Homo sapiens: one gene and its partners. The protein of the gene in region 6 purifies or fractionates together with the protein of the main gene of each other region. This does not show direct contact. Each region holds a gene or a part of one and is shown on either strand. Other genes may lie near its edges.

Evidence for each region.
Region 1: the proteins of SLC25A25 (region 6) and ZNF331 purify together in Homo sapiens (co-immunoprecipitation; one large-scale study listed by IntAct). This does not show direct contact.
Region 2: the proteins of SLC25A25 (region 6) and PGS1 purify together in Homo sapiens (affinity purification with mass spectrometry; one large-scale study listed by BioGRID and IntAct). This does not show direct contact.
Region 3: the proteins of SLC25A25 (region 6) and OMA1 purify together in Homo sapiens (affinity purification with mass spectrometry; one large-scale study listed by BioGRID and IntAct). This does not show direct contact.
Region 4: the proteins of SLC25A25 (region 6) and SERAC1 purify together in Homo sapiens (affinity purification with mass spectrometry; one large-scale study listed by BioGRID and IntAct). This does not show direct contact.
Region 5: the proteins of SLC25A25 (region 6) and MCM3AP purify together in Homo sapiens (co-immunoprecipitation; one large-scale study listed by IntAct). This does not show direct contact.
Region 7: the proteins of SLC25A25 (region 6) and ADCK2 purify together in Homo sapiens (affinity purification with mass spectrometry; one large-scale study listed by BioGRID and IntAct). This does not show direct contact.

Annotation. Positions count from the first base shown.
Region 1 is NC_000019.10:53,576,145-53,578,456, reverse strand, and holds part of ZNF331 (zinc finger protein 331), read right to left. Parts: intron 1,761-2,312; coding exon 505-1,760; 3' UTR 1-504. UniProt on the Homo sapiens protein: May be involved in transcriptional regulation. May play a role in spermatogenesis.
Region 2 is NC_000017.11:78,402,649-78,406,148, reverse strand, and holds part of PGS1 (CDP-diacylglycerol--glycerol-3-phosphate 3-phosphatidyltransferase, mitochondrial precursor), read right to left. Parts: intron 2,582-3,500; coding exon 2,060-2,581; intron 1-2,059. UniProt on the Homo sapiens protein: Functions in the biosynthesis of the anionic phospholipids phosphatidylglycerol and cardiolipin.
Region 3 is NC_000001.11:58,501,727-58,505,226, forward strand, and holds part of OMA1 (metalloendopeptidase OMA1, mitochondrial precursor), read right to left. Parts: intron 1-3,500. UniProt on the Homo sapiens protein: Metalloprotease that is part of the quality control system in the inner membrane of mitochondria. Activated in response to various mitochondrial stress, leading to the proteolytic cleavage of target proteins, such as OPA1, UQCC3 and DELE1.
Region 4 is NC_000006.12:158,144,263-158,147,762, forward strand, and holds part of SERAC1 (protein SERAC1), read right to left. Parts: intron 2,652-3,500; coding exon 2,520-2,651; intron 159-2,519; coding exon 37-158; intron 1-36. UniProt on the Homo sapiens protein: Facilitates the transport of serine from the cytosol to the mitochondria by interacting with and stabilizing Sideroflexin-1 (SFXN1), a mitochondrial serine transporter, playing a fundamental role in the one-carbon cycle responsible for the synthesis of nucleotides needed for mitochondrial DNA replication.
Region 5 is NC_000021.9:46,272,112-46,275,611, forward strand, and holds part of MCM3AP (germinal-center associated nuclear protein), read right to left. Parts: intron 3,215-3,500; coding exon 3,075-3,214; intron 1,475-3,074; coding exon 1,277-1,474; intron 719-1,276; coding exon 450-718; intron 1-449.
Region 6 is NC_000009.12:128,102,732-128,106,231, reverse strand, and holds part of SLC25A25 (mitochondrial adenyl nucleotide antiporter SLC25A25), read right to left. Parts: intron 2,552-3,500; coding exon 2,393-2,551; intron 504-2,392; coding exon 351-503; intron 83-350; coding exon 1-82. UniProt on the Homo sapiens protein: Electroneutral antiporter that most probably mediates the transport of adenyl nucleotides through the inner mitochondrial membrane.
Region 7 is NC_000007.14:140,686,445-140,689,944, reverse strand, and holds part of ADCK2 (uncharacterized aarF domain-containing protein kinase 2), read right to left. Parts: intron 2,956-3,500; coding exon 2,704-2,955; intron 349-2,703; coding exon 220-348; intron 1-219. UniProt on the Homo sapiens protein: The function of this protein is not yet clear. It is not known if it has protein kinase activity and what type of substrate it would phosphorylate (Ser, Thr or Tyr).

The DNA of each region.
Region 1 (2,312 bases), on a different chromosome or scaffold from region 6:
TCTCCCAAAATATCTTATTGTCATGTAGATCTTAGCAACCTCAGTATATGATTTTTTTCTTTTCTTTTTTAAGTTGAGAACTTTCACCTTTTCATTTAAAAGGAAGCACTTTGTGGCTTCTCTTTGGCATATCCGAATCACCAGCATCACTACTCCTGCTCTCTGGGGCCACTGTTAAGCAAAGTGAGGACTGCTTGGGCACAGGCACTGTGATGCTGGGATAGTTGATCTGATCACCAAGACGGCTACTAAGTCACTAGCAGGGTGGGTGGCGTATACAGCGTGGATGTGCTGGACCAAGGGATGACTCACATCCCCGGCCGGCTGGAGCCGGACAGCGAGAGATTTCATCACGCTACTCAGAAGGGCACACCATTTGAGACTTAAAATTCTTTATTTCTGGAATTTTCCATTTAATATTTTTGAACTGCAGTTGACTGCAGGTAACAAACTGTGGAAAGCGAAACCATAGATACGAGCGGGCTACTGCGTTCAAAAGGCTCTTCAACTGTTGTGGATCCTCTGATGTTCTCGGAGATGGTTTAGGTGGTTACATGCCTTCCCGCACTCCTTACATTCGTAGGATTTCGCCCCACTGTGCGTTTTCTGATGTTGTGTAAGCTGATGGCCGTGACTAAAGCTCTTCCCACATTCTGTACACCCATAGGGTTTCACCCCGGTATGAATTCTCTCATGTTTCACGAGGCTCGATCCATAAATGAAAGCCTTCCCACACTCCTTACATTTATACGGGGTTTCGCCTGTGTGGATTCTCTCGTGCTGAGTGAGGTGATAGCCACAATTGAAGGCCTTCCCACATTCTGTGCACTTGTACGGCTTCTCGCCCGTATGTATCCTCTCGTGCTTAACGAGGCTCGAACCCCAGCGAAAGGCCTTCCCACACTCCTTACATTCGTGAGGCTTCTCACCGGTGTGGATCTTCTGATGCTGAGTAAGGTAATTGACTCGAGTAAAGGCCTTCCCACATTCTTGACATTCATAGGGTTTCTCACCTGTGTGAATTCTTTTATGCTGAATGAGGCTTGAACCACAAATAAAAGCCTTCCCACAGTCTTTACACTCGTAAGGCTTCTCCCCACTATGAATTCTCTTGTGCTGAATAAGTTTATACACACGGCTAAAGGTCTTCCCACAGTCTTTGCATTCGTAGTCTTTCTCCCCAGTGTGGAATCTCTGGTGCTGAGTGAGCTCATCACCACGCCGAAAGGCCTTTCCACAGTCTTTACATTCATAGGGTTTTTCACCAGTATGAATCCTCTTATGAATAACGAGGCTTGAGCCCCATCGAAAAGCCTTCCCACAGTCTTTACATTCGTAGGGCTTCTCCCCAGTATGAATTTTTTGATGTTGAGTAAGCTGATTGCCCCAACGGAAGGCCTTCTTACATTCTTTACATTCATAAGGTTTCTCACCAGTATGGATTTTCTGATGTTGACTAAGTTGATAGCCACGACTAAAGGCCTTCCCACAGTCCTTACATTCAAAGGAATTCTCCTTATGATGTCTCTGATGTGTTCTAGGAGGGGTGCCTTCTCTAGTAGCAGGTCTTTTGACATAATTGATGATCATCTGATTGACATACCTCCCTCTGGAGCGCTGTGGTCTTTCAAGCGTACCTTCACATATCCAGTTACGGCCAAGGGATTTACTTCTTCTATCTGAATTCCTTTTGGAAGCCCTTATTTCATGAATGTTTTTTTCTGTAGGTAAACTCTTATTTTCATATGCTGACTCCAAATCTGGGAAAAAAGAACATATTTTCTTTCCTTTAGAGGGACACAAGTACAAACGAACCTAACCACAAACCAAAAACTCGTCTAATAGAAATAAAAATTATCCAGTAGAATAAATGTGAATCACCCAGGGCTCTTGTTAAAATGTAGATTCTACTTCTGGTACAATACTAACTGAGAATTCATTGGAGACATCTATTTTAAAGTCAGACATGAAAAAGGTCCCGACAATTAGTCCTATTATTTCCTATTTTGAAGATGAAAACAAGTATTTGTAGATGATGTGATGATATACTTGGAAAACCAAATATAGAAGTACTGTAACAAAACAATATGCAGTTGGATGGCTGTGTGTAAAGCATTCTGAAACTGATACACGTATATGTCAGTAGTATTATTAAAAGTAACTGGTAAAGGGCCGGGAGTGGTGGCTCATCACGCCTGTAATCCCAGCACTTTGGGAGGCCAAGGCAGGCAGATCACCTGAGGTCGGGAGTCCGAGACCAGCTTGACCAACATGGAGAAACCTTGTCTCTACTAAAAATACAAAATTAGCCG
Region 2 (3,500 bases), on a different chromosome or scaffold from region 6:
GAAACAGGGTTTCACCGTGTTAGCCAGAATGGTCTGGATCTCCTGACCTCATGATCTGCCTGCCTCAGCCTCCTAAAGTGCTGGGATTACAGGCGTGAGCCACCGCGCCTGGCCGGCTTCAGTATTTCTTACAACGCATCCCCCAATTGAAAAACATTGGTTTAAAGAAAACAAAAACAAAAACAAACCACCTGAGCACCGGAAGATGCCTCGAGTCTCAACAACACAGCTGTGTGCCTACTGCAGTCCACAGCCTAGATTCCCCATCCATGGAGGCCCCCCACTCACTCAGCTCTTCCGAAAGCCACTAGAACCAGGACAAGAGAAGGAGCAAAACAGGCCTCTGGACTGCCCAGGGAGAAGCCAGAAAAGCCGTGGGATGTACTCATGGCACAGGGGCCTCCAGGCACCATTTCCCCTTCTCTAGACAGACTAGCTCCAGGATTGGGGGTCCCCAGCGTCAGAAAGGAGTCATGGTCCCGCTGCTAGAGGCGGGCACCCTCCCAGCATTAAGAGGCCATGCAGTAAGCCCACTGCTAAGCACAGGGTTTCCAGCATGTTATACCCATGTCTTAGAGAGCTGCCCCTGGGATTCTGCCCCATTTCGGCTGCTCCGCCAGATGCCTGAGAGGGATAAACATGCATTGCAGAGTGTGACCCTCTTCCTACCACCCCCACCAGCAAGACTGTGCACAGAGCCTCCATTTCCTCAGCTATGGGGAAAAAAGGCAGACATTGGCATATAGGGAAAAAAACAATAGCAATAGTGAGGAAAAGACAAGAAAACTGGGCTGCTGATGCCAAAACAAATGATCCCTAATGAATCTTCTTTCTCCCTGAGAAAGGCATTGCCAGCCGGGCGCAGTGGCTCACGCCTGTAATCCCAGCACTGTGGAAGGCTGAGACAAGTGGCTCACAAGGTCAGGCATTCGAGACCAGCCTGGCCAACATGGTGGAACCCCATCTCTACTAAAAATACAAAAATTAGCCAGGCGTAATGGTGCATGCCTGTAATCTCAGCTACTAGGGAGGCTGAGGCACAAGAATCATTTGAACCCGGGAGGCAGAGGTAGCAGTGAGCTGAGATCGTGCCACTGCACTCCAGCCTGGGCAACAGAGCAAGACTCTGTCTCAAAAAAAAAAAAAGTTGCCAACAAGCAGGAACTCTGACAATCAACACAAGGCTAAGGGCCGGGCGTGGTGGCTCACACCTGTAATCCCAGCACTTTGGGAGGCCAAGGCAGGTGGATCACCTCAAGTCAGGAGTTCAAGGCCAGCCTGACCAACATGGAGAAACCCAATCTCTACTAAAAATAAAAAATTAGTCAGGCGTGGTGGTACAGGCCTGTAATCCCATCTACTCGGAAGGCTGAGGCAGGAGAATCGCTTGAACCCAGGAGGAGGAGGTTGCGGTGAGCCAAGATCGCACCATTGCACTCCAGCCTGAGCGACAAGAGTGACATTCCATCTCACAGCTAAGGCATGTTCCTCTCCATCTCTTAGGAGAGGTTATGTCACCACATCTTTACCACAGCCACCAAATAATGTGACCATATACAGTCTTTGATGCATAAAAGAGACGGATTTTACACAACTGAAATTCACTTCTTGGGAGGCAAGGCAGGCAGACCACTTGAGCTCCGGAGTTCAAAACCAGCCTGGGCAACATGGTAAAATCCCATCTCTACAAAAATACAAAAATTAGCCAGACATGGTGGCACGCGCCTGTAGTCCCAGCTACTCAGGAGGCTACGGTGGGAGGACTGCTTGAACCGGGAAGTGGAGGTTGCGGTGAACTGAGATCATGCTACTGCAGTCCAGCCTGGGAAACAGAGCAAGACTGTCACAAAAAAAAAAAAAAAAAAAAAATTCCCTTGAGGAGATGAATGCTCGCCTCTCCCCAAGTCATGGGACAGCTATGATGTGCCTGCAAGGGCTGCTGGGAAGGTAGGAAGGGAGAAGTACAGCACTCTAACAGGTAGGCGCCAGGGCTCCCCACCCCCTGCCCATGTTTGTGGCTGTCCCACACTGGAACGTCCTCCAGCCAGCCGCTGCGCACCTTTGGCGTGGAACGTCCAGCCCCTCCGCCAGTACTCCTGAAGCTGGACCCGCTCCTGCTGTCCCAGGCTGCACACCTCACTGAAGAACTGTCGCTCGATGTGCACATAGGCCGCTGGGATGGCGCCGGCCACCCCCTTGGCCCCAAAGAAGCCATTCACCTCTGGTGAGGCCAGCAGGATCTGGTACTCAGCCCGAGTGCCCAAGACCAGGTCCATGTAGGCCTGGGTCAGGTTGAAATAGCCAGTGGTGAGGTAGACCTTTGCCCCGCGCTCCGCCTCAGTCAACAGGGTCTCAGTGACAATCTCATCGATTTGAATCTCGAAGGGCTTCATCTGAATCAGCGGATAAATCCAGGTGTCAGGGGCTGGTCTGCGATCCCCAGCAGCTGCTGCATCTTCCTGGGTCAAAAGAGAGTTGCTGTGGAAGGTCTGGGCATGCAGCATCTGCTGGCGGGTCCTGGCTGAGTTGATCACATCCATGACCCTCTTATTGGCTGCCTTGCAGTACTCGGCCCGGTCCCCTGGGGAAGACGTGAAAGAAGAGTGAAGGGAAGAGAAATGGAGGGTCTGGACTCTGCCCAGCTCAGGGGACAGGGCATGTGATAGGCAAGTGCAGACGCTACAACTGGATGTTCACTGAACACTCGCTGAGTGGGCCCAGGACCCCAAGCCCAGAGCGAGGCTCCTCTGGGGATATAGTTTGCCCAAGACAAGGGCCTGGTCCACAGTAGCCCACACTCAGGCAGAAGTGAAAGGCATGTCGACGTATCATTCCAATTACAAACAAGCTCAAAACCAGGCAAGACAAACTGACAGGGAGAGAAATCAGGATAGTGGTTACCTTTGGGATAATTCCTTGGGGGGGACATACGGGGGGCCTCCAGGAAGCAGGTCCACTAGCAGCAGGTTCATGGCTGTACACCTGCGACTGGTGCTCGGGGTGCATGTTCTACTTCAATAAGGAAGCTCAGTCAAATAAAGACATGCAAGTATAACCAAAAAAGGAGCATGCGTATTCCACAGATGGGGTCACAGGGCAAGCCATCACCTTGGATAAGCACATCACCATGTGGGAAAGCTTCCCACAGCAGTGACAGTGCCTGAGAGAGAGGAAGAACGGGCAGGCTCAGGCTCTGCATGGGGTGCCTTTTGTATTCGGACAAGACACTGGTGACAGGTGACCATGCAGACACACTGAAGGGAAAGATGCTATTATCAGACAAGACAAAGCTGAAAATTAATGAGTTAAGCATCCAACTCAGGAAGACAGGGGAAAGAAACAACAGAATAAAACCAAGAATACAGTATAGGGAAGCAAAAAATAAAAATAAGAACAGGCCGGGCACAGTGGCTCACGCCTATAATCCCAGCACAGCACTTACGGAGGCAGGAGCGGGCAGATCACCTGAGGCCAGGAGTTTGAGACCAGCCTGACCAACA
Region 3 (3,500 bases), on a different chromosome or scaffold from region 6:
CATAACTGTGTGCTAAGGACTCATGTGTTCCTCTAAAATTCATATTTTGAAGTCCCAACCTCCAGTGTAACTGTATTTGGAAATAAGGCCTAAAAGGAGGTAACTAAGGTTTAATGAGGTCTGAAGGGTGGGGCCCTGATCGAATAGGATTAGTAGCTTTATAAAAAGAGACATAAGAGAGCTGCCTCTCCCTCCTCACTGCCCCCCACTCCCGCCCCCAGCACCAAATTTATTATCTGTCTCCCTTTACTGCAGAATAAGCTTCATGAGGACAGGGATTTTTGTCTATTTATTTCACATCACCTACAACCTGGCATATAACAGATGACTGATAAATACTTGTTGAATGCATAAAGTGTAAATTTAAAACATTTTAAAAGTTGATAAGCTACAGTAAGAAACAATACATTTTTGTGATGATATGCAAGGGATCCAATAAGAAATAAAAATATACAATCTTCAATAAGCTAAAGTTTAAAAATCAAAATGATCAAAATTTGTGTTCTAATCACAGACCCACAGAATCCTGCTTTCTTGGTTTCCTATTTGCTTTCTTGATTTCCTATGAATCTGATCCAACACAGGCTCTGTCTTCCTCCCACCCATTAAATGTGGAAAATATGCAATACTGTTACTTTGATCTTTTTCTCTAATCACTTCCTACGTGAACTCATCCATTCTCATTGCTTCAACTATCACTTCTTTTTAGATGACTCTGAAACTCTGAAATCTTCATCTCTGGCCTGGATTTGTCTGTGCTCTCTAGTGCTGTATTCTCAACTGCCTTTGAGGGGAACATAACTTCACCATACTGCTAGAGATGTCAAAGGACAGGAACCTTAGGTAGAACATAACATACTCACTAGAGCATGCTACATAAAATATAATTTCAAAATGTAGTAGTAGTATACAGACTCACATAATTCTATATACTGCCTGAGAAACTGCCTTCTTTCATTATATGTCAGAAATTAGACTACAATAATAGGGAATTCCAATCTTTGAGTTATGACTGTATATTCTAATTAACAATATACCCTTGTACTATCAGTTTCACTTCAACCACTGAGTTATTCCCAATATTGCAATAGAGTTTTATTACTTTCAAATTGAATTTAATCACTTGGGGTGGGGAATATAAGAAATTATATGAGGTTTTCAAATTAAGTTTCTGAACTAGGATAGTTTATTTTTAGAAGAAAAATGTCTCACGTCTTTGTCTTCATCATTTGCTCCCAAATAAAATTTGTTTCTCTAGCCATTTTTCTTCCTACTCACTAATCAATTCATTATTATTTTAAAGACATCTCTAAAGCACAGTTTTTACCTCTCCGAAGATGCTCAGTAATTTGATGATGAAATGACAACTCAGAATTTAGGAGTCTTCACATGAAAAGTTGGCTAACAGAATTTATTATCCAATTAAACAAACCACATATTTTTAGAATTTCATTGAGCGAAAATAAAAAGAAAAAAAATTCAAGAGAAAATCATATTGTTATCATTGCTTTAGAGACAGGCCCAGGCCTCCCAGGGTGCGATAAAGTCCCAGGGGCCTTGGATAGCACAAAGGACCCTCTTATAGTCAGTGATCCTCAGTACAAGTCAGTTACTGAAGAAATACATAATGTCCCATGCCTATACTACCCTTTTAAGAGGAATAATTACTACATATTATATCAGGTAAATTTCACTGCTATTTCTTTCTCAAATTTTTTTTTCAAATTAAGAATACAAATGAAATCTAGTTAAGATAGCTGCTGATATAGAGTGAATGTCTGTGTCCTGTCAAAATTTATATGTTGAAATTCCAACTCCCAATGTGATGGTATCAGGAGGTAAGCGCCTTTGGGAGGCGATTGTCATAAGGGTGGAGCCCTCATGAATGGGTTAGCACCCTTTTATAAAAGAGGCTTTTGAGAGCTCCCTTGCCCCTTCTACCATGTGAGGTTACAAGGAGAAGATGGCTGTTTATGAGCTGGGAAGTGGGCCCTCACCAGACACCAAATCTGTTGGAAATTGGATCTAAGATTTCACAGCCTTCCAAACTGTGAGAAGTAAGTTTCTGTTGTTTATAAGCCACCCAGTCTATGGTATTTTTATTATTGCAACCTGAACAAACTAAAATAGGTGTTAAGAAGCCATGCTTGGCTGTCCTCAATGCTCACAAAAGGCACGAAGTATGCCTAAATTACCAACAAATCCTGTCATCACTCCTTTCAAAATATATCCAGAATCTGACTGATTCTTTCCCCATTTTCTGCTACCAGATATCTTGGTCCAAGCCACCATCATCTCCTACCAGGATTATGAGAGTCTCCTAAAAAGTCTCCCTGACTCCACCGTTGCCCCACTAGTCTACTCCACACAATAATGCCAGTGATCACAATAAAACATGAGTCAAATCAAGTCACTCCTCTGCTCAATATCCTCAACTAGCTTCTCCTATCACTTGAAGTGAAAGTCAAGTCCTTACAATGGCTTAGAAGATCCTGCGTGGTCTGGTCCCCTTTCACCTCATCTTGAACTGTTCTTCCCTTCCCTTACTCCATTCAGCCCCAATGTCTTCCTTGCTATTCCTTGAACACATCAAACATACGCTGACTTTAGGTTCTCTGCATCAGCTGCTTCCTCAGCCTAAAAGGCTCTCTCTCCCTCCACACAGCTAAAGGACTTGCTCCCGTGCTTCCTTCCGGATTCTGATTAGTGAGGCCTTCCTTGACAACCGAACATAGACTAGTACCCCTTCTCTGCTGCCCACCCCTCTCTAATACCTTTAATCTGCTTTATTTTTTCCCAAGGTACTTATTATTGCTTGGCATACTATATGTTTGTTTCTTATTTGCATTACCTAACTAGAATGTTAACTCCAAGAAAACAGACTGTTTTGTTCCTTGCTCATTCCCCAGCAATAGAACACAGAATAGTAGATTAATCAATAAGTATCAATAAATATCGATCTACCTAATGAATGAATAAATCTTGCACTAGAGTTTCTTATCCCAAACTAGAAGCAGATTCATCTTCCTTCAAACTGCATACCGTTTTTATTTTTCTTATGATAAATCATATCCTTGTACTAATAATCATTTTTTATTTATCTTAGCATCCTGTAAATATCAAGAACCATATCTTATTCCTCTTTGTATCCCCCACATCTAGCATCATTTCTTTCTTTTAAGAGGTACTCCGTATTTGTTGGGCTGAATTTGAAGTCATACTGAAAGATACTTCTTTTTTTTTTTTGAGACAGAGTCTCACCCTGTCGCTGACTAGAGTGCAGTGGCACGATCTCGGCTCACTACAACTTCTGCCTCCAGGGTTCAAGCGATTCCCCTGCCTCAATCTCCCGAGTAGCTGGGATTACAGGCGCATGCCACCACGCCCGCCTAATTTTGTATTTTCAGTAGAGACAGGGTTTCACCCCGTTGGCCAGGCTGGTCTCGAACTCCTGACCTCAGGTGATCCACCCACCTCAGCCTCCCAAAATGCTGGGATAA
Region 4 (3,500 bases), on a different chromosome or scaffold from region 6:
CACTCTCTAAATTACTATTATTATTGTTTTACTTACTTCTTTTAAAGATGGCAAAGGAGGTGGTAGGAGAAAAAAGCGAAGATCACTCTCTTCGCTTCGTGCCAAACCAATAAGAGTTTTCGGATCACAGGCTTGAGCAATTATCCTATACTGGTAATCTATTGAAAAAGCATTTTCTTTTGTTAATACCAAAACTAGCTGACAGATGTCATAAAGATTAACTGAACAAACAACTTGAAAGCACTCTAATTTTTAAACTGCTCTGCAAATTTGTAATCCAAAATTTCCCAAGTGCAACTACATTTACAACACCTATAAGCTAGATACGTTTCCAGGACTGATCTCACAATTCTCCTCAACATATATATGGAGACCGGGTCACAGCCTAACTTTTTGGAAAAAAGGAAGCTCAAAGGTGGAAACTGGTAAGTCAGAACCAATTTAACTTCTTTTTAAAACAATTCCAGCATTCAAAAGATGTTCTGACCACTACTCAAAACACATGAGGTGGCATTTAAGCCTACTGCTCCGTGGTGATGATATGGTGCTTTGGTATTCATAGTGTCCATGAATATTTAGTCTGCAGTTCCAGATAGCAGTACTTTGAATTAAACATGCCATTCTTTATATATCAAAAACAAAATTCCAACCATGAAAGCAAACATTATTTTCAATAATGGCAGTTTATAACCTGGGGTTGGCCAGTCGCCATGGTTCAGGCCTGTAATACCAGCACTTTGGGAAGCCGAGGCGGGCGGATCATTTGAGGTCAGGAGTTCAAGACCAGCCTGGCCAACATGGTGAAACCCTGTCTCTACTAAAAATACAAAAATTAGCCAGGCGTGGTGGCAGGCACCTGTAACCCCAGCTATTCGGGAGGCTGAGGCAGGAAAATAGCTTGAACCCAGGAGACGGAGGTTGTAGTGAGCCAAGGTCACACCACTATACTTCAGCCTGGGTGACAGAACAAGACTGTCTCAAAAAACAATAATAATAATAACCTGGGTGAGTACTTCTGGATCAAGTGGGGAACTTTTCCAAAATCTGTGGGCCAGGGCACTTCCTCTGATTTCTCTGATACAATAAGTCTGGAATGGAGCCCTGGAAGGCAAATTTTGAAAAATATTTCTATTCTAAATCTCCACCAACATTAAGTAAGCTTATACTTACATTATAAATTATAATTATAGCCACCAACCAATTAACAAATTAATTTGCAGAGATCTCATTCTGAGCTTAACTTTTCTTTGAGAATTTTTCTTTTTTTTTTTTTTTTTTGAGACAGTTTTGCTCTGTTGTCCAGGCTGGAGTGGAGTGGTACAATCTTGGCTCACTAACAACTCCACCTCGTGGGTTCGCAATTCTTGTGCCTCAGCCTCCCAAGTAGCTGAGATTACAAGCACACGTCACCATGCCCAGCTAAATTTTTTCTATTTTTTTAGTAGAGACAGGGTTTTGCCATGTTAGCCAGGCTGGTCTTGAACTCCTGGCCTCAAGTGACCCGCCTTCCTCAGCCTCCCAAAGTGCTGGGATTACAGGTGTGAGCCACCATGCCTGGCTGAGAAAATTATTTTTTTCTACTTTTCCCATTTTTACAAGACAGCTCTACTAACAAATTATAGTTTTATCCATGTACTATAACCAGAGAAGATATGAGTTCTTTTAAAAATATTTTTATTGTAAAATTTGTGATTTTTAAACACAATTACATATTTCAAATAGTCCATTAAAAATGATATACACAAATACAAATTGGGTACATTCGACTATTAGTATTAGAGCCAAGTAGATTGTAAAAGTAAAAGCAAACATAATTGTATGGTGTAGCAAGCAATTAAATGTACTTCATTAAATAGAAACCAAAAGAAAACTCAAGTACATTAGGTAACTATCAGAATCAAGAGTTGCTCTCAAAGAAGTATGTAACCAAATAAAACTTTGTTCTGGTAGAAAGTTACACAAATATATATACCTCATTTTTGAGCTTATTCTTACCAAACACATTTGACTACCAGTTCAGCAGGCTTTCTACTTTCCGTATCACTGAAGCTTCTTAAAATTTTTCAAATACTTTCTATATATACTAACACTGCCTGAATTATTTTCCTTCCTGAATCTCACTCCCACTCCCTTGTCTTTTTTTTTTTTTTTTTTTTTTTTTTTTGAGATGGAGTCTCGCTCTGTTGCCCAGGCTGGAGTGCAGTGGCGCAATCTCGGCTCACTGCAAGCTCTGCCTCCTGGGTTCACGCCATTCTCCTGCTTCAGCCTCTCGAGTAGCTGGGACTACAGACGCCCGCCACCATGCCTGGCTAATTTTTTTGTATTTTTAGTAGAGACGGGGTTTCACCATGTTAGCCAGGGTGGGTCTTGAACTCCTGACCTTGTGATCCAACCAGCGTGGCCTCCCAAAGTGCTGGGATTACAGGCGTGAGCCACCGCACCTGGCCACTCCCTTGTCTTTTATGTCAGCAATCAAGAGCCAGCTGAAGGCATGCCACCTGTTCAGGTAGTCTCATTACCATGCCAGTGATGGGTCTCCGACATTTCCCGCACAGCCTCGAGTCGCGTGGTTTTGTCATCTGACTTGCTCTTCCGTAGGAGCAGCCACACAGCACACTCATGATCTTCTATATCAACTGTACTAAAAGGATCTTTGCAAAAAGAAAAAGCCAAGACAATGTGAAAAGTTAAGATAATACTTTTATCTTCACTTTAAGATGGTAATTTATAAACACTGAAATCTACAATTGGAGAGTTAAATCCATATATATAGGTATTGATAAAAACTAATATTATTTGTTCTCAATTCTGTCATATTATCTTTTACAGTTATTATGAATACTGTGTGTGCTTTTTTTTGGATGGGGGGGCAGGGGTCAGTTTTGTTTTGTTTTTTGAGACAGTCTCGCTCTGTTACCCAGGCTGGAGTGCAGTGACACAATCGTGGCTCACTGCAGCTTCGACCTCTTGGGCTCAAACAATCCTCCCACCTCAGCCTCCTGAGTAGCTGAGATCACAGGGGTATACCATCAGGCCCAGCTAATCTTTTTTTTTTTTTCTAGAGACAGGGACTCAAGAAATTGCCCAGGCTCAATGTGTGTGCTTTTGTTTTGTATATTCTGGTGTCTTTCATATGTGGTCATTTTTAAAATCTTTTTCTCCCCAAAACTTTTTCAAAAAGATCAAATATATGAAAGAAATTAATAAGTTAACATAGGCTGGGCGAGGTGGCTCACACCTGTAATCCCAGCACTTTGGGAGGCCGAGGCAGGCGGATCACGAGGTCAGGAGATCCAGACCATCCTGGCTAACACGGTGAAACCCTGTCTCTACTAAAAATACAAAAAAAAAAAAAAAATTAGCTGGGTGTGGTGGCGGGCGCCTGCAGTCCCAGCTACTCGGGAGGCTGAGGCAGGAGAATGGCGTGAACCCGGGAGGCAGAGCTTGCAGTGAGCAGAGATCGCGCCACTGCACTCCAGCCTGGGTGACAGAGAAGGCTC
Region 5 (3,500 bases), on a different chromosome or scaffold from region 6:
TTCATTCATTCTCACTACCCCATTCTTCGCATTTTTGTTTTACATAATTTTTTCCTCTCTTATTCTGAGATCTTTGACAAAACTATCTGGGAACAGGGAACTGCTAACAACCTTGCAGGGCACCTGGAACTCCCTCTCCTGGTTCACTCACCTGTCTCATGAGGAGGATTCCTTCCTCATTTTCTCACTGGTGAGGAGAAACTATTTTCAGAAATGAACATGTGGGGCCTACGTCAGATGTGCTGGTCCCAGGGCACACCCCCATCGCTCTTCCCCCAGCTCAGCTCAGCCGACTGCAAAGCCAGACCAAGGTCCTCTACTATCATCCCAACATCTGCTACCAGACAGAATGCTGCACTATTGGCTACTGCCACTCCTGAAAGCTCTTCTCCTGTTTAAAGCCTGCCTTTTCAGCCACCTTAGGACAACTTTTGGATGTGAAAATTCACCTTAGGATGTCTCCCTTGTTGAGACTGAGCAGAACATTGTAGCCCTGGAACTCCGCTTCGCTGGCACAGAAGACACCCTTGTTTCTCAGGTCCTGGTACATCTCCTTCAGGCTCTGCAGGCACTTGGTCATGTTCTCATTATTGATCTTGGCATCAAAGGAGGACATGGGCTCCTCACACATGAAGTGGGCACAGTGGATGTGAAACCGGGTGCACTTCTCAATCAGGGACACCGTCAGGGGGTCACAGAGGTGCTGCTGCGTGATATCCTGGCCACAGGCGAGGGGGAGGATCACACACACATTCCCATGCAAAGAGGCAACCGTGAGAAGGATCATGCTACGACCTCAATTTCTCACTTTTCAATTTGAAACAAAGCCCATGATGCACATTTTAATAGGACTTTGTAGTGACTTAAATAAAAGTCCTGGGGTTTGTTTTTTTTTTTGAGACAGAAGCCAGGCTGGAGTGCAGTGGTGTCATCTTGGCTCACCACAACCTCCGCCTCCCAGGTTCAAGCAATTCTGCTTCAGCCGCTCGAGTAGCTGGGACTACAGGCGTGTGCCACCACGCCAAGCTAATTTTTGTATTTTCAGTAGAGATGGGGTTTAACCATGTTGGCCAGGCTGGTCTCAAACTCCTGACCTCAGGTGATCCACCCACCTCGGCCTCCCAGAGTGCTGGGATTACAGGCCTGAGCCACTGCACCTGGCCCACAAAAGTACATTTTTGTTACAGATAAAATATATAACAGAGTAATAAAAATATCAGTTTGACTTTGGAATTTGCGTGGATTTTTTAGCATCCAGGTTGGAGGCAGCCAATACCTTCCGTATGCCACGCGTGCGGTTCCACACGAAGTCATACCAATCCCGCAGGCTGCCCTCCTTCTGGTCCATGATCTGGGTCACCAGGTAGTCCATGGTCCTGCTGAGCACTGGCAAGGGCCGCAGCTCGTGGGGCAGGGGCTCCTCCTGATCCGCCGAGGACCGACTGTACTCTTTCACAGCTGCTGCGTGGTCCACCTAGAGACATGAAGCCGAGACAGGATGCCCATGTGGCATACCTTGGGCCAGGCATAGTTATGCCTGAAAATGAGGGGGAAAATCACATACACACCCACACAAGATCAGTATTTGAGAATATATTTTTTCAACATAAAATTTCTGTTAAAAGGTGACAATCAAAATTCAAAGACAAATAGAGAAATTTGATTTTGGCAAATATGACAAGGAGTTAAGATATGAGTGCGTCATGACAAACAGGAGGAATGTTAAGTGAAGGCACATCTGCTAGCCTCCAAAGCAGAGAGACGGGACAGGGAAGGGCCTCAAGCACTTAAAAGGTCTCAGGCCCGCTCACACACCAGATTAAGTCTACACAGAGCAGAAGTGAAACAGAGACAGGCGGTGAGGACTGCTGAGGACACAGCATCAGGGGCTGGCTGCCCACCTGGGGCCTGGAATTGCATCTCCCACCTCAAAAGGAGGCTGAAGACGTGGCCAAGGGAAGAGGCAGAGATGTACACAGGACAAGGCCCTGGGCATGTGCCTCTCCTGGGGCAGGGGCCCTACAGTGACACGAGTTGCTGGGCTGGGGACCCCGCACCAGGCGAAGGGTGTATAAAGCCACCAGCCAGGAAGAGGAGAAGCCCATAAGCAAAATTCACAAAGTCCAAAAGGATCTATATTGGTGCAGCTTTCTGGGGCAACAATTTGGGAAGATACATGGATAATGTTCAGGAAAGGTCATACCCTCTGATGCAGTAATTTAATTCTTAGGATCTGAAGAAAATAATCTAAATACCAGAGAAGCATTACATACAAGATGCCAAACAATATTACTAATAGAACTAAAAATTTAGAAGCAGCCTATCTACTAATGGTAAAAATGCAGAGTTTTGACAGAGCTACTAATAAAATAATATGCTGTCATTTTTAAATGCTCATAGTTTACCCTAACAAAGGAAAATGTTCATGACATAATTTTAAGTGGAAAAGATACACATAAAATTGTATCTAGAGCATAATCTCGAATGTGTAAAACATAAGCATAGAAACAGACAGGAATAAGATCGTAAAAAGAAAAAAGTTAGCTGGATGTGGTGGCTCACGCCTGTAATCCCAGCACTTTGGGAGGCGGAGGTGGGCAGATGACTTGAGCTTAGGAGTTCGGGACCAGCCTGGGCAACACGGCAAGACCCCATCGCTGCAAAAAATAAAACAGTAACTAGGCGTGGTGGAGCATGCCTGTAATCCCAGCTACTCTGTAAGCTGAGTGAGAGGAGAGGATCACCTGAGCCTGGGAAGTTGAGGCTGTAGTGAGCCATGATTGGACCACTGCACTTCAGCCTAGGTGACAGAGTGAGACCCTGTCTCAAAAAAAAAAAAAAAAAAAAAGAATTTGAAAAACAACTTTATTTAAAATAACTTGCATCTATACCTTATCATGTATAGGTACCAATTACAGAGTGAACATCTCACAATGCAAAACAGCTTAATATGATTGTTAATAGCACAAATACCCAACACTGTCTAAAACAAACACCCAAATCAAGTATGTACAGAAATGACAAAAGCAGCCCCGTCCCCTGCCCACACTCCACGGGGAGATGCAGGGCTCTACCTGGTCAGTCCCTGGGACCACTTCGAACACGCTCAGCTGGCTACGGGTCTCCCGCATGTACCTCTCCTTCTCAGGACACATATCCAGGCAGGTGCCAACAAAAGTCCTCGCTTTGTCCAGATCGGTTCTCTTCACCCGAGCTAAATGACGTCAAGTAAAAGGTAAGAATGTACCACATGGTTAGCACGAACCTACAGAAGTGTATTCTCATAATGATAAAAAGAAATTAAAACTTAAAACACACACACACATTACAAAAGAAAAGAAAAACATTTGTAAAACTCAGAGCCTCAGACAAAGAGGACTTATGGTCTATTATGCCAGGCAGTGGGACATCAAAGCTCCCAAAGACCCGAGTCCACCTCTCTCTAACAGTCACAGACCCTCACTGCAGACTAAGAGAAAGACCCCCGAGTCACCTCTCCA
Region 6 (3,500 bases):
CGATGGCCCCTGCCAAGGACCCTGCCACAAGCCTCTCGTGAATCCTCAGAGTCTCCTGGTCACTACCAACAAGGCGCTTGATCTAGAACCAGGAACAAACAAACCACCTGATATACCCAGAGGTTGGGGCACCTGCTGCTGCCCCTCCCTTCCAGGAGTCCCCGGCACATTTTATGCTACCCAGAAATGTAAGGAACTCGTGGTGAGCCTGGGCCTCCTGCCTCGCCCTGCTGTCCCTGGGGTACCACGGCTGGCTCCAAGTGTCAGGGAGCTCAGCCCAGGGAAAGCCAGCAAGTCCAGGCAGTGAGTAGCCACTGGCCGGTGACCCTCCTGAGGAGCTGGGTCCTCACCTGCTCATAGGCCATGAATTTGATGGCTGATTCGGGGGCAATTTTGAGGACGTTGATGCCATTGCCCCGCCAGAGTGACCTGGCCCCTCCTTCTCGAATCATCTGAGTGAAGCCACCAACGATGCCCATGTTGTTGCTGCGGGAGGCATGGACCTGGGAGGGAGGACCGAACAGTCAGACGGACCCGGGGGGCCACAGGCTGCCTCACCCGGCCAAGAGCCTCTGCTGGCCAACCGGCTGCGGCCAAAGGGAAGGCCCTTTCTTCCGTGCATTTTGAAGACAAGCTTGGAATCATGAGCCCAAAGTAACCCAACACGGCTAAGTGAGGCTCAGCTCCATCGTACTGGGTATCTGCTGGTTGCCAGCCTTGTCCTGAACATCTCCATAAAGATGACTTAAAAAAAAAATCAAGGCTGGGCGCGGTGGCTCATGCCTGTAATCCCAGCACTTTGGGAGGCTGAGGCAGGTGGATCACTTGAGTTCAGGAGTTCGAGACCAGCCCAGCCAACATGGTGAAACCCCGTCTCTACTAAAAATACAAAAGTTAGCCGGGCGTGGTGGCAGGCACCAGTAATCCCAGCTACTTGGGAGGCTAAGGCAGGAGAATCGCTTGAATCCGGGAGGTGGAGGTTGCAGTGAGCCAAGATCGCGCCCCTGTACTCCAGCCTGGGCGACAGAGCGAGACTCTATTTTAGAAAAAAAAAAAAAAAAAAAAAAAAAAAAGGCCGGGAGTGTTGGCTCACATCTGTAATCCCAGCACTTTGGGAGGCCGAGGTGGGCAGATCACATGAGGTGAGGAGTGTGAGACCAGCCTGGCCAACATGATGAAACCTCGTCTCTACTAAAAATACAAAAATTAGCCTGGGGTGATAGCGCATGCCTGTAATAATCCCAGCTACTAGGGAGGCTGAGGCTGTAGAATTGCTTGAACCCAGTGAGGGAGGTTGCAGTGAGCTGAGATCATACCACTGTACTCTAGCCTGGGTGACAGAGCGAGACTGTCTCAAAAAATATAATAATAATAATAATAATAATAATAATAATAATAATTTTTAAAAATCAAAGTTTTTCATTATTAAAAAAACTTAAGACATATTAAAAAATAGAATGAATGCCCACTCAGCTTAGACAATGATCAAACCACAGCCAACCTCTCTCTCCTGCTGCCCCACCCATGCTGGTTTAAAGGCACACGCCAGGCATTTGATTTCACCCAAGGCCTGCTTTCAATCTCTACAACATTCCTGATAATTCTGCTAAAAAAACAAAAGGATGAGGCAGTTGTTCAAGCCCCTATTTTCACAGAGGAGGGGAAGTCCTGGGAGGGAAAGGGGTTTGCTCAAGGCCACAAGAGGGAGGGAGGCAGCTGTGGTGGTGCCCTGGGCAGAGTCCAAGCCCGAGGCATTCTGCCCTGAACCACCTGCTTCCTTTGTCTCTGTGCAACACAGGGAGGCCCAGCAAGGCAGACTGGGGAGAGAAAGGAGGCAGCTCTTCCAAGCCGGGCTCCTGGCACAAGAAGTACTAGGTACGGGCAAGGGGACAAGTGGTGGCCAGTCACCATTCAGACATCAAAGTCCACCAGTGTCGTTGTGTGGGTCAGTTTCACAATTCTGCCTTGACATCAGCCCAGCTTATCTCTGCTGTGTGGACATGGATTTGCGTACCTGGCCAAGGTAATGGCGTGGCTTCCCATTGGCATCTGGGTCAGGTGAGGCTCTGCTGGCCCCAGTGTGGGGTAACGTACACAAAACGTACTTACAGAAATTGGTTCCTGCCTCACCCCAGTCTCGCTAGCTTCACCTGTCCACATTATGCCCCTGTAATGTGATGCCTCAGATAAAATTAGATCCGCTCTGCACAAAATGTCACCTACAGTGACATTTTGGTACCCCCTGTCTGAGCAATAATTCTAGTCTAATTTATTGGGTTAGAAAAGTTTGGGCCCAAAGCAGGCACCAGCCAGAGAAAGGGAAAACTAGCCAAGCAGCATCCCCCAGGTGGAAACTGGCCCCCCAGGGGTCTGGGGCCTTTTCCCTACATACCTGCATGAGCACCTTGAGCCTGTCCAGGGGGGCCGTGCAGGTTCTGGATACGGCCCCTGCCCCACCTCCTGCCACCAGGTGTCTCCACCACATCCCCGTCTGCCTCTCCTCCACTGTGAACTCATCCGGGACCGTTAGATTCTCACCCACATCAAAGATCTGTGAGGAAAGATGGCACAAGCCTGACTCAGGACCCTTGGGGCAAGGCTGCTGGCACCTGTCGCCGTCTACCCTCTAGCACGGCTCCAGGCCAGGGACCACAGGACAGGGAGAAGGCCAAGGACTCTGGGTGGGAAGCGGGCTGGGGTCTTTCCCTTCACTCTGAAGGTAGCAGAGCTCTCACCCCTGCTGGGGTCCTGGAGAGGCACAGGTATAGAACCTCAGCTGAACACAGCCGGGAGGTGCCGGTTAGAAAACCATTCACCGGCCCTTTCCAATGCTGCCAGGGAGCTACTGCAAGAACAGCTCACAGGCCTGTGTGAGATTGCCAGGCTGGCTGCGCTGAAGGGATCAGGCCGGGGTGAGAGCCGTCTGAGATCTCACGTGTAACCAGATCACGCTGGCAGAACATTATGCAACGCCTCAGCAAACACGAGGGCTCGCTGCCTGCGTAACCTTTCTCCGGGTGACATCCGGGCTGATCAGAGCCACCTCTGCTCTGATCCCAGGGCTAAAGGCCAGAGCTCTGGGCCAGCTACTCCCACCCCTGGAGCTGTCCATTTAATCTCACCTAACAAGCCCTGGCCTGGCACTGCGAGAGGCAGATGAGGAGCGCCTCTGGCCTCCCCTCCTGGAGCGGATGGTCCAGAGGGACAGGACTGCACACCAGGACTCAGAGAGGGACACGCCAAGCATGAAGGGCTCGGGGCAGAGACCAGCACAGACTCACATTTCTGAACATGAAACCACAGTGGACGGGGGCGAGAGGGCAGCAAATGTGTGACCGTGGGGACACCTCACAGCTCTGCCTAGGTGTTCTCTGTAGAGTAGCTTCTGCCCCAGCCCCCTCCCACCGGGGGGAAGGCTCATACCAGCTTTGGGAGAACAGACAGCATCATGGGAAGGGGTATTTGAAGTGGCCCATGAGGAGCAGGGAGCAGGGAGCATG
Region 7 (3,500 bases), on a different chromosome or scaffold from region 6:
GGAAGGAGCTGCAGCCTCCTAAGTGGCACCGCACAAGGAGGCCCCCTTGAGCACAACGGACTTCACTGGGGCTCCTCATGCCTGGAAGATGTGGGGTGGTTCTTTTTCTGCTTTAAAACTCACACCCCTCATAAAGAGGTCTCCCTTAGACCCAGGATCTGCTCTGCCCCAGGCCAGGTATGGACTCCCCAGCCCCTGTTCCGCAAGTGACCTGCCCACCTTCTCCAGGGTGATGGTGTTCTTCCTGGCCTGGGTCACCAGCATGGCCATCTCGGTTTTGAACCCCTCCACGTCCCTGCACTCGCTGGCCCGGGCATGATGCAGGATCAGCTCAGCCACTCTCTGGCCCTGGAAAATGCAACGGAAAAGGGACTTGGAGTGGAGCTAGCATAAACCTGGATGCGGTGCCCAAGCGTCTTTCTCATCTCAGCAGCTCCACCCTGACTTTTCTGGCATCTTGCTTTTGGCTCTTCCTCCTCGGGCTGTGACCTTTTCCCTTTGCCCATACCTATAGGGAGGAATGCCCCCACCCCCGCTGCACTGCGCCTCAGTGCTTAACCTTGGCCCAGGGGACACTTTCAAACCAGCTGCAGGCCCCAGCTTTGGGTTTGCCCTCTCAGAGGCAGGGACTGCCCTGCATTTTGCTGTTTAAAAAAAAAAAATTTTTTTTTAAAAAGAGCCAGATGCAGTGGCTCACACATGTAATCCCAGCATTTTAGGAGGCCGAGGCAGGTGGATCACCTGAGATCAGGAGTTCAAGACCAGCCTGACCAACATGATGAAACCCCATCTCTACTAAAAATACAAAAATTAGCCGGGCATGGTGGTGGGTACCTGTAATCCCAGCTACCTGGGAGGCTGAGGCAGGAGAATCACTTGAACCCGGGAGGTAGAGGTTGCAGTGAGCTGAGATCGTACCACTGCACTCCAGCCCAGGGAACAGAGTGAGATTCCATCTCAAAAAAAAAAAATTAATTAATTAATTTTTAAAAAAAACAGTTCTCTTTTTCCCAGTGTTTTTCTTGCTGGAGAATTCTTTGCCAGCCGGCCAGAGGGCCTCCTCAGAGTCACCCACGACGTAGTGCTTTCAATTGACTCTGCAGAGGCCTTGCCGAATGCCTTTTCTCTAAATAATCATTCTCAACCACTGCAGACCCTCAGAATCACAGGGGAGGCTGCAAAAACTACTCATGTCCCCACATCGGACGTGCCAGCATGCTGTGCCCCACTTAGAGGCTGTGTTCTCTATGCTGTCGCATCTCACCAGCCTGCCACCTTGCAGCAGGTAGCACACACCAGGGGCAGCCATTATCTGGTCAAGAAGCCAGCATTCCTGCTGACCAGCTGGATGTTTGCTGGAGAAGGACCAGAAACTACTAACACGAAACAGCACTTGTTTCTTCCCACAGTCCCAAACCATCTGCCACTCAGAACTGGCCTGATTTGCACCCAGCACCTGCTAACAGAAAGCCCCTTAAGGGCAGCCTCGCCTCCTGTCCTCCTGCCTCCCTCCACTCGTTTCTGGCACACTGGCAAGTGTGAGCATTGACAAGAATGACCGGGCTAAGGAGACCTGTCCTGTTTCAAGACAGAGACATTCTGGCTGGGTGCAGTGGCTCACACCTGTAATCCCAGCACCTTGGGAGGCTGAGGCAGGTGGATCACCTGAGGTCAGAAGTTCAAGATCAGCCTGGCCAACATGGTGAAACCCCATCTCTACTAAAAATACAAAAAGTGGCCGGGCATGGTGGCATGTGCCTGTAATCCCTGCTACTCAGGAGGCGTGGCAGGAGAATTGCTTGAATCCAGGAGGTGAATGTTGCAGTGAGCTGAGATCACGCCAAGGCACTCCAGCCTGGGTGACAGAGCGAGACTCTGTCTCAAAAAAAAAAAAAAGACAGAGACAGAGGCATTCCCCAGAGTATAAAAGATTCACCCCCTGCCCAGCCTGTAGTCCTAGCTACTCAGGAGGCTGAGATGGGAGGATGGCTTGAGGCCAAGGCAGCCTGCGCAATATAGCAAAACCCATCTCCATTAATTTTTTGAAACTTTAAAAAAAAAAAAAAAAAACTAAGATCTCACTCTGTCACCCAGGCTGCAGTAGAGCAGTGCAATCCTAGCTCACCACAGCCCCAAACTCCTGAGCTCAAGTGATTCTCCCACCTCAGCCTCCCAAGTAGCTGGGACCACAGGCGCACACCACCAAGCCTGGCTTTTTCTTTTTTTTTTTTGAAATGGAGTCTCACTCTTTCACCCAGGCTGGAGTGAAGTGGCACAATCTCAGCTCACTGCGACCTATGCCCCCCAGGTTCAATGAATTCTCCTGCCTCAGCCTCCCAAGTAACTGGGATTACAGGTACACACCACCATGCCTGGCTAATTTTATATTTTTAGTAGAGACAGGATTTCACCGTGTTGGCCAGGCTGGTCTCGAACCCCTGACCTCAGGTGATCCACCCGCCTTGGCCTCCCAAAGTGCTGAGATTACAGGCGTGAACCACTGTGCCTGGCCTATTTTCTTATTTTTTATAGAGACAGGGTCTCACTATGTTGCTCAGGCTGGCCTTGAACTCCTGGGCTCAAGCAATCCTCCCCGCTCAGGCTTCCAAAGTGCTGGGATTACAGGTCTGAGCCACCATGCTTCACCAGCTCTTTTAATTAAAAAAAATTCACCCCAACTTCTGTGGTCCCAGTGCGTCTCACCTGCCCCATCACCACAGCCATGAAAACTGCCCGGAAATTCCTCAGGTCAGGGGCCTGCAGCTCCGCCACAATGCCAGCATCCAGCAGCACCAGTCGCAGCGGGCAGAGGGAAGATGGCACGGCCACCACCAGAGTGTCACAGATGTCCGCCTGCTGCAGCTGCGCCTCCTGACTCGAGGACAGGCCGTTGGCACCCTGAACCAGGATGTTTCCAGGGTGAAGGTCTGCATGGACAAAGTTATCCACAAATATCTGGAAGGAGATCACAATGCTCATGAGTGAGTCGCCCCTAGAGCACCACCAACCTACAGAGAAAGAAAGTTGCCAGGTGACAATAAGCTCCCAGCACTCTATCACAGCCGCAAAGAGGTGCATGTCCTATAGACCCTTCTTGTTTAGATGTCAACTCAGAATTTGTACAAGGATGAGCTAAGTTAAAGTTTTCAAGAGAAAAATTATTTTCAAAGTAAAAAGCATTTTTAAAAGATTATAAAGGGGCCGGTCTCAGTGGCTTTACACCTATAATCCCAGCACTTTGGGAGGCCAACGAAGGAGGGTCACTTGAGCCCAGGAGTTCAAGGTTACACAGAGCTATGATCATGCCACTGCCCTCCAGCCTGGGTGACACAGCAGGACCCTGTCTTGTAAAAATAAATAAATAAGGCCGGGTGTGGTGGCTCACGCCTATAATCCAACACTTTGGGAGGCTGAGGTGGGCGGATCACTTGAGGTCAGGAGTTAAAGACCAGCCTGGCCAACAAGGTGAAACCTCGTCTCTACCAAAAATACAAAAATTA